Linked DNA regions of Homo sapiens. The protein of the gene in region 1 purifies or fractionates together with the protein of each later gene. This does not show direct contact. Each region holds a gene or a part of one and is shown on either strand. Other genes may lie near its edges.

The links. Proteins that work in one complex are often made in the same cells at the same time.
Region 2: the proteins of CLPB (region 1) and PAG1 purify together in Homo sapiens (affinity purification with mass spectrometry; 2 studies listed by BioGRID and IntAct, with this or other methods). This does not show direct contact.

The regions. Positions count from the first base shown.
Region 1 is NC_000011.10:72,423,905-72,428,936, forward strand, and holds part of CLPB (mitochondrial disaggregase), read right to left. Parts: intron 1-5,032. UniProt on the Homo sapiens protein: Functions as a regulatory ATPase and participates in secretion/protein trafficking process. Has ATP-dependent protein disaggregase activity and is required to maintain the solubility of key mitochondrial proteins.
Region 2 is NC_000008.11:80,983,069-80,986,568, forward strand, and holds part of PAG1 (phosphoprotein associated with glycosphingolipid-enriched microdomains 1), read right to left. Parts: intron 2,310-3,500; coding exon 1,708-2,309; intron 1-1,707. UniProt on the Homo sapiens protein: Negatively regulates TCR (T-cell antigen receptor)-mediated signaling in T-cells and FCER1 (high affinity immunoglobulin epsilon receptor)-mediated signaling in mast cells.

The DNA.
Region 1 (5,032 bases):
CACCTGCTGTTCCCTCTAACTGAACTGTCTTCCGCCTTTCTCTTCATCATTAAGAGTTCACTTCAGTCTCATTTACCAGAAGCTTTGATCTAGGACTTTGATCTCTAGAACTGAGAGGAATACATTTATGCTGTTTATAAACCACTCAATCTGCGGTATTCTGTTATAGCAGCCCAAACAGACAAAGACAGTGGCCTTCGGTGACTAGCTTTTTTCACTTAGCATATTTTCAGGGTTCATCCATGTTGTAGCACGTATCAGTGCTTCCTTTGAATTGATGAATAATATTCTGATGTACTGTTCTATCATATTTTTATGCAAAATGTATCGGGCCCAGAGAGACCTGAGTATAGGCGCTCAGCCATAACCCCACACCCTTGCCCCATGCCTGGGGGCAATTGTTTAAAGCCATTTTTTTCTTTCTTTTCTACCCTGTAGTTTCCTAACTAGCTGCCTCACCCATTATTTTCCTGTAGTTCCTGGAATATGTGATACAAAGAACAATGTATAGCCAAACAATAGCTTGTTATTTTAATGTAAATTCTTGGTAAACAACTTGGAAAGTGCCTCTTCTGCGTGGTGGCTCAGGCCTGTAATCCCAGCACACTTTGGGAGGCCGAGGTGGGCAGATCACTTGAGGTCAGGGGTTCGAGATCAGTCTAGCCAACATGGTGAAACCCCATTTCTACTTAAAAAAAAAACAAAAATACCCTGGGCGTGGTGGCTCACGCCTGTAATCCCAGCACTTTGGGAGGCCGAGGCGGGCGGATCACGAGGTCAGACCATCCTGGCTAACATGGTGAAACCCTGTCTCTTTGTAAAATACAAAAAATTAGCCGGGCGCGTTGGCGGGCACCTGTAGTCCCAGCTACTCGGGAGGCTGAGGCAGGAGAATGGCATGAACCCGGGTGGCGGAGTTTGCAGTGAGCCGAGATCGCACCACCGCACTCCAACCTGGGGGACAGAATGAGACTCCGTCTCAAAAAAAACAAAACAAAACAAAAAAAAACACAAAAAAAAACTTAGCCAGGTGTGGTGGCATGCACCTCTAATTCCAGCTACTCGGGAAGCTGACGTATGAATATCACTTGAACTCAAGAGGCGCAGGTTGCAGTGAGCCGAGATCGTGCCACTGCACTCCAGCTTGGGTGACGGACTGAGATTCTGTCTCAAAAACAACAAAAAAGTGTCTCTTGTTTTTCCCTTTAAAAACACACTTGCAACTGTTGCTAATCTGGAGCATATATTTATGGCAACTTGAATCTAGACTCTTGGGTTGCAGTCCTCAAACTTGGCCCCAGTAAACTCTTTCTACTAATTTTACAGTTGCATAATTAGTTATCTGACTCCTAGTTAGACTGTGCCAAGAGGGCAGGGACTGTGCCAATCTTGTTCGTTACTGTTAACTGCCACATTCAGCCCAATGCCTAGCTCTGAATATGCACTCGTAAGTATTGGCTGAATGAATTAATCATTTTGTTATTAGTAATAATGACTCTGCCACTCTGTGGGGTTAGTTATTATCATCTTCATGTTAGTTGGAAGGTAGGTAATTTGTTCCTTGTTTCACTGGCTCTCAATGTTTGACTCATGTCCTTCTTCCTCACCAGAGGGCACACGAGCTCCTCTAGGGCAGGGACTGTTTCTCCTTCCTCATTTTGTTGCCACAAATTCAGCTCAGGGCTAGGCACAAAGCACAGGCTGGACAGATGGGCGACTGAGGGACAAACGGAGAGTCAATCAATGTTCTCCACGACCAGGTCGCTACCTGTCTCCAGTCCCTCCTGGCCTCAGACTGTGATCCAGCAACACCGAACAGCAAGTGACTTCCCCTCTGCATACCCCCCAGGCTGCTCCTTGCCTTATGCTACCACATATGCTGCCCTTTTTGCCTGGAATGGCTTCCCCTTCTATTTACAAAGTCCAACTGATATTTTAAGTCTATGATCAGGTGCCATTTCCTCTGGAAGTCTTTCTCAGATCCTCCAGGCTGTTTGTCCTCTGGTCTCCTGCAGCCCCTGTAGTTTCCTGTCTCACAGCACTGACCACCCTATTGCCACAGTTTACCCCGACTCTGTCATCATGGGCAGGAACCATGACTGCTTAAGTGTTCCCTGTGCCAAGCAGAGGACTCAGGATATGGCAGATGCTGTTTGTCAAATGAATAAATAAATCCTGGAGAAAAAGGGCAGGCAGTCTGAGGCCCAAGACTGATCTTGCCAGGCTTCCTTTATTAGAGACTGCTTGGGCTGATGAACAACTGAGGTAAGCACTCAGCAGAGGCCTAGCCCCCTGCTGGGAGAAGGGAGATGGGTAGGGGTGTTGTCTTTCACCCACTTTGTGCTGAAGGAAATGTGATCTCCACCGGGAGAACAGGAGGCCTCACTTTTCCCAGTCCCAGTCCTGACAACTCCTCACATGGCTTGGCCTGAGCCTGGACAGATGTGCCTCTAGTCTGCCTTGTGCCCTAGGTTTCGGGTGAGCAGTTCCTCAGGCTCAAGTTTGGGGTAAGCCCAGGAGCAGGACCACCTGCTCACACTGCTGACAGGTAGGAGGCCAGGCTTCCACTTCTGAGGAACCAGAGATGGATGAACTTAAGTGCCTCAGGGGAGAAGGGAGGAAATGGATGTCACACAGGAAGGGAGGGAGGGAGGGAGCGAGGGAGGGAGGAAAGAGAAGAGACCTGGCCTCCCTCTGATATAGCCAAGGGGAGTGTGAAAGCCTCTGGACTGCTTACTTCAGGTACACTGAAAAGTCAATAAAAAGCAAAGAAAGAGTCACAAAAAACAAGTAAGTGCCGCTGTGCTGTGGAACAGGGTAAAAGACGGTAGAGAACACAACCTTGTCCCTGCCCTTCAGGAGGTGCACAATCCAGCAGTTTCAGATGAAATATAGCCCACAGACTTCTTCATATAAAGAACAGTGTGGCAAGTGGCATTCAGCTCTACTTCTCCAACCTGACCTCCAGCTTCTCTTCCACAAAAGGAGCTCCCTCCTGTGACAAGCTGCCATGGTCCTTTCTAGATCACCCTCATACCCTCCCAGACCAGAAGGCAGGTGTAGGATCAGAGTGGGGGGAAGAGGCAAAGGAAGATGAGATCACACCCAGCTGGGAGGAATCCAAGAAGGCTCTGTAAGGAAAGCAGCACTAGAGCTTTGAAAGGTGTAAGCAGAGGATAATGAATACAGATGGCAGAGGGCCATCTGTGGAGGACCCACATCCAGGGCCCATGGACTGAAGATTCCAGGGTGTCCTTAAAGAGGAGGATCGAATACCTCCCCCTGGGAGCAGAAGAGCATTAGGCTGCTGCCCTTCACTATCCAGAACTTTCCCAAGACTCTGGGGCTAAGGACAGGAGCTGGGGGAGGTCAAGTAGAGGCAGACACAGTACAGAGCCCCAGAGAGGTCAAGTGGGGAAGAAGGGTAAAGCACGACATTATTTACGAGGTCTGAGTTTTGCTCTAAATACTGATATTATTGACCATATCAATCATATACACAGTGACCCAACCATGTGTAACCTACAGTCATGCGCTACACAATGATGTGTTTGTTAACGATAGACTGCATGTATGAGGTGGTCTTATAAGATTATAATGAAGCTGAAAAATTCCTATCCTCTTGTGACGTTGTAACTGTCTCAACATCATAGTGCAACAAATGACCTTTTCTGTATTTAGGTATGTCTAGATACATAAATACTTACCATTATGTTACAATTGCCTACAGTATTCAGGGCAATAACGTGCTATACAGATTCCTAGCCTAGGAGCAACAGGCTATACCATATAGATTAGGTGTGTGGTAGGCTATTACCATTTAGGTTTGGGTAAGTATACTCTATGATGTTCACACTGTGATGAAATTGCACTACTCAGAATGTGTCCCTATTGTTAAGCAAGGCATGACTGTATGTGTAAATTCAAAGAAATAAATGAGTATGGGATTCTGTCCTGCTATAGGCAGGTCTGTTGGGCAGAGCTAAGAGCCCAGGACATTGAAGAAGAAATAAAGAGCAGCATGAACCACCTGTACAGAGTCTAGGGTACAGAAAGGCTGAATAAGGACCTACTGTAGGAATTCCAGAAAGTTTCCTTCTAGCAAGGATGGTCAGGCTCCCTTTACCCCCACTGCCCCCAGACCTGGCTCTGTTCGCAGGAAGAACTATAACTGGTGGGTTACATGTCTGTTTCCTTGAGACCAGGGCCTGGGTCACCATCCCCATCCCCCATCTGCAGTGCCCAGCAGAGGCCCACTCACTCTTTCATAATCAAGAGCTGCTTTGGGTGAGGGGGAGGGAAGGATGTCCTCATTCAGGCCCTCATCATCTTGAATCTGTCTTTACTGAAACAGAAACAGCCTCTTAACAGATCGGCCCTCAGCCTTTTCCCAATGCAGTCCATCCTTCACTCCTCTGCAAGTCAGCCTTAACTGGGTCATTCCCCTGCTCAAAAACTTCCCACGTCTCCCCACTGTGTACAGAGTAAGAGTTCAAAACTCCTCACCCTGGGCATGGCAGGCCTTGCACATTCCAGCTTCTCTCAGACAACCTTCCCTCTTTTCTGACACCCTGTACAAATCCCACCTCAGGAGCATCAACATATTCCGCAGGCCCAGCAGCCAGCCAGCATCTGCTTCCCGCCTTTGCTTAGCTTGCTCCTGGCTCTGTGGTCTTGTATGAGATGGGGGCTGAGGGCAGGTCTGTGCCTCGCTCATCTCTGATGTCCTCACATGGAGTGAAGGGAGATTCTGACAGGGTCATCCTGACCAAGTGAGGTGGGACAAGAGGAGGCAGGAGAAAAGCAGGCTAGAGCCTGGGGACACACATGAAAAGCCCCCCCAGACACTATCCACACGAGAATGAATGTTCAGAAAAATTGTCTGAATCACACATACACCGTTAAGTTCAATTACTTTCTGTATTTTTGGGATGGGTGTTTAATTGCTATTAGAAAAACATGTATTTGAAAGAACTAAATAATCAATGCCTGGCAGCTCAATGGAATATGGTAGTGGCATCCCCTGGGGGAT
Region 2 (3,500 bases), on another chromosome or scaffold:
CCAGGATCGAGCTCTGGTTCTCTTTCTCCTCACTGCTGTCCTTGCTCTTCCCTCTCCACCCACAGCAGTCCCCTCCTCTTCCCTTAAAAAGCCAGTTGCAAGCTCTAGCTTCAGGGGCCTCACACTGGGCATCCCCTCTGCTTCACGTGCTCTTTCCACAAAAGCACAAACCTCACCCCCTTGGATCCTTTAACTCAAACGTCACCTTCATAGCTGGGCAGACCCTGACCACTCTATCCAAAACTGTACTCCCCACCTGTTTTCTCAGTTCCCCTTATTCGGTTCTATTTTTTTCTCTTATAAACTTTAAACTTTATGTCTGTCTCTTCCCACTAAGATGTAAGTTCCACAGGGCAGGGATTTTGTTCATGTACATGTTTTGTTTCCAGGACTAGAAGACTGTGTGGCACACAGCAGGTGCTTATTAAGATCTTTTGTTAAATAAATGAATGAATATTAAATACTTCAAACCCTCAACTCACTTAAAATTAGGGTTGTTTATATAAAGATGATGGATTACTCATTTTTACTATATTGTGGAAGGATAATTTTATTTCCAGATGATTATTTCCAGTTTTTAACGTGAAATCTGGAGAACTGTTTACTAGCAATGGTTAGACAACTCAACGTCTTATCTTTCTAATGCTTGTAAGTAAAAAGCTTTGTCTGGTTTAGGCAGCATGAACTTTACATCAGGTTTATGGTCTTTGGTTCTATGAAGGGCAAAAAATTGGACTGCATTTTTATATTTTATGAACATGTTCATAAACCCTTTTATTGGTGCTCTCAACAGCTGATTTCATGGATAATATGAAAAGTTGAAATGCATTCAGAGAACAGCACAAAGAATGATTTTCTTGGTCTAATTTATACAAACAGAGTGAGGGTTCACCTCTGGCCATGAACTACGGAAGGTTTTTAAGGCTACTAGTGACTGGCTAACCTGCTACTTGTCCTTCCTACTAAAACTGAATAGAAGAGAGAACCTTCCTCTTTTTCTGTGTAGAAAACAGAAATTAATTATTAGTTGCCTGAAGTAGATGGGCCTAGTTAAATCCCAAAGAGATTTTAACAACCAGGGATGTGAACTTCATCGTGGCTCAGATATCAAGTTATCAGACACATGCAGAAGGTGTGGATTGCTAATGCATTTTACAGCTTTGTTGAATATCTAAATTTAGGAAGTATAGGCTATAGTTTAGAAAGGGTCACAAAATAAGATCTCCTACTGATTTATATGAAGGTTTGTACAATCAGATATAACCAGGGGCACCTGTGAGTTGGTTCCCATGGTACCTGTTGCTATGCATGCTGATTTTTGGGGATCCTGGAAGGGGAAAGGTCACCATGCTGCTGAGGCAGCCAACAAGCAGAATGGGTAAAATGTGTGGGCAAAGTGTCCAGTTTCTGTATTTAATTTGTGGACATCAAAATGAAGCAAACAAGATTTGGCCCTAATTAGACATGATGGAAAAAATGTGAAAATATCCAAGTAAGGTGCTGAGAGAAATATTTGATAAATACAAGTTTTTGGTATTTTATTACTTGGAGGGGGAAAAAGCCAAACACAGCTTACATGAAAACAGCTCTCATCATTCAACAAACTGGAAAGTGTTTGCAGATATTTCCCAGAACAACTCCAGGGCCAGCTAGATTCCTAACCAGAACAGGAACCCACAAAGACAAAACAAAAACGCCAGTGCCCACCTTGTTAGTTTCACTGGTCGTGTCTGTGGCACTCTCTTCCGCCTCTCCCCCTTCCTTCTCCTGAAGGTTTTCATTCTCGTCCAGAAGCTTAACAGGGACAGGTGGTGGGGCCTCCTCTTCTGGATCACATGAATTTCCAAGGATACTCTCTACATTAACACTTTGACGACATTTTTTGTTTCTGTCCACCGAGGCATATTCAGCAAACTCAGCTTTGCCTTCAGTCTGGGGCCCTGGGAGCTCTTTCGAGGCAGAAGTAGATTTTGCCTTGCCACTGTGGCCTTTCTCCAGGTGTGCAGCTGCAGCCACCTCCTTGATCTCTTTCACAGTTTCATACAAGCAGTCCTCCACCATGTTTTCTTGGGAGGAGCTGTCCTTGAGCACTTCATAGGGCCCTTCCATCCCCAGCCCCTGGTCCCCGTCCACACTTCTCGCCGTGAGCATGGTATCCACTGCGCTCTCGGGAGGGATTCTGGGCAGCTCCCGACTCTGATGACATTTTGGTTTCCCTGTGCTGTCCTGGGAATCCAGCAGATCCGAGGCCGATGTCTGGACTTCCTCGTAATGCTGCATGCAGGTCAGAGTACTGTCCTCTGAAAGAACTAAAGCAGCACACACATTAAAAGCGGAGAAAGGCAAGTCTTTCAATAATTATTACCGAGAATCAGGTAATATAAAGTTAGGTTAAATCAAGATGCGTGCTTTTTATTTAAGTCTCAGGCACAAATTATAGTTGTTATGACCATCAGTTGGTATCCTACTTCAATCACAGTTTAAAATAAAGCTGTTCATTATATCTTTCCCAATACAAGATTTAATAAGTTATCTTGGCTCTAAGTGTAGTTCACAATTACTTTCCTTAATGTCACTCCAATGAGAGACTCTTGTAGGCAGATTGTCCAATGTGACCAGAAGATGACCAGTTTGATGCCGCTGAACTATGGGAGGCTGGACACCAGAAAGGCAGCATGTGCAGTGACCACAGTCCCCAGCACCACTGACCCCTGCCTGTGTGGAGGGAATTATTGGTAGCCACCCCCTTTCACACAGGTGACTTTTGTTTGGCAGACATAATAGAAACTACAGGGCAAACATGCACCCGTCAGCCATTAGCACAAAGGGACTGGCACCTCATACCTTGCTTCCATCTCATCCCGCCACCAACATTCCTACCTCAAATTAGAAAAAAACCAAATGTGAAATTCTTGGCCAGCCACAGATATGCTATTGTGTGAAGCTGTTCAGTCGTCCCTTTGTCAACCGTGTTGTGAGTGCCTGCCATGCACCAGGGATGGTGCAGGGTGCTGCAGACACATCATTCAATGAAACAGAAAGCCCTGCCCTTAGGATGCAGACACAAAGTAAGCAAGTTATTCCATTAGTGTCTCACTCTGGGGGAATTAGAAATAGTGTTTCCAAGGGGTATGTGAAAAAATGACAACGGATCCCCCAATCCTTCTGAACTTACCAACACCCCTGTGTGTTCTAAATCCCTGATCATCACGGAGGGGGTGAACTTTTGCTCTCTGGTTCTAGTTGTCTACATCATGGTAGACAGAGAACAGGCACTGGTGTCCTGATTACCCCACAGTTTCCTCATCAGTAAACAGGGGTAACAGGACGCCCTCTTACCTCAGGTAAAAGCATGGTGTAAACTCTAAAGCATGAAGGAAACCTAGCTGCTCCTTCCATCAGCAAGAGTACACAATGCATGATGCAGAGGTTATGCAGAGTGACTGAGTGCGTGCCCAGGGATCAGACTGCCTGGTTCCAACTACAGATCCTTAGCCCGC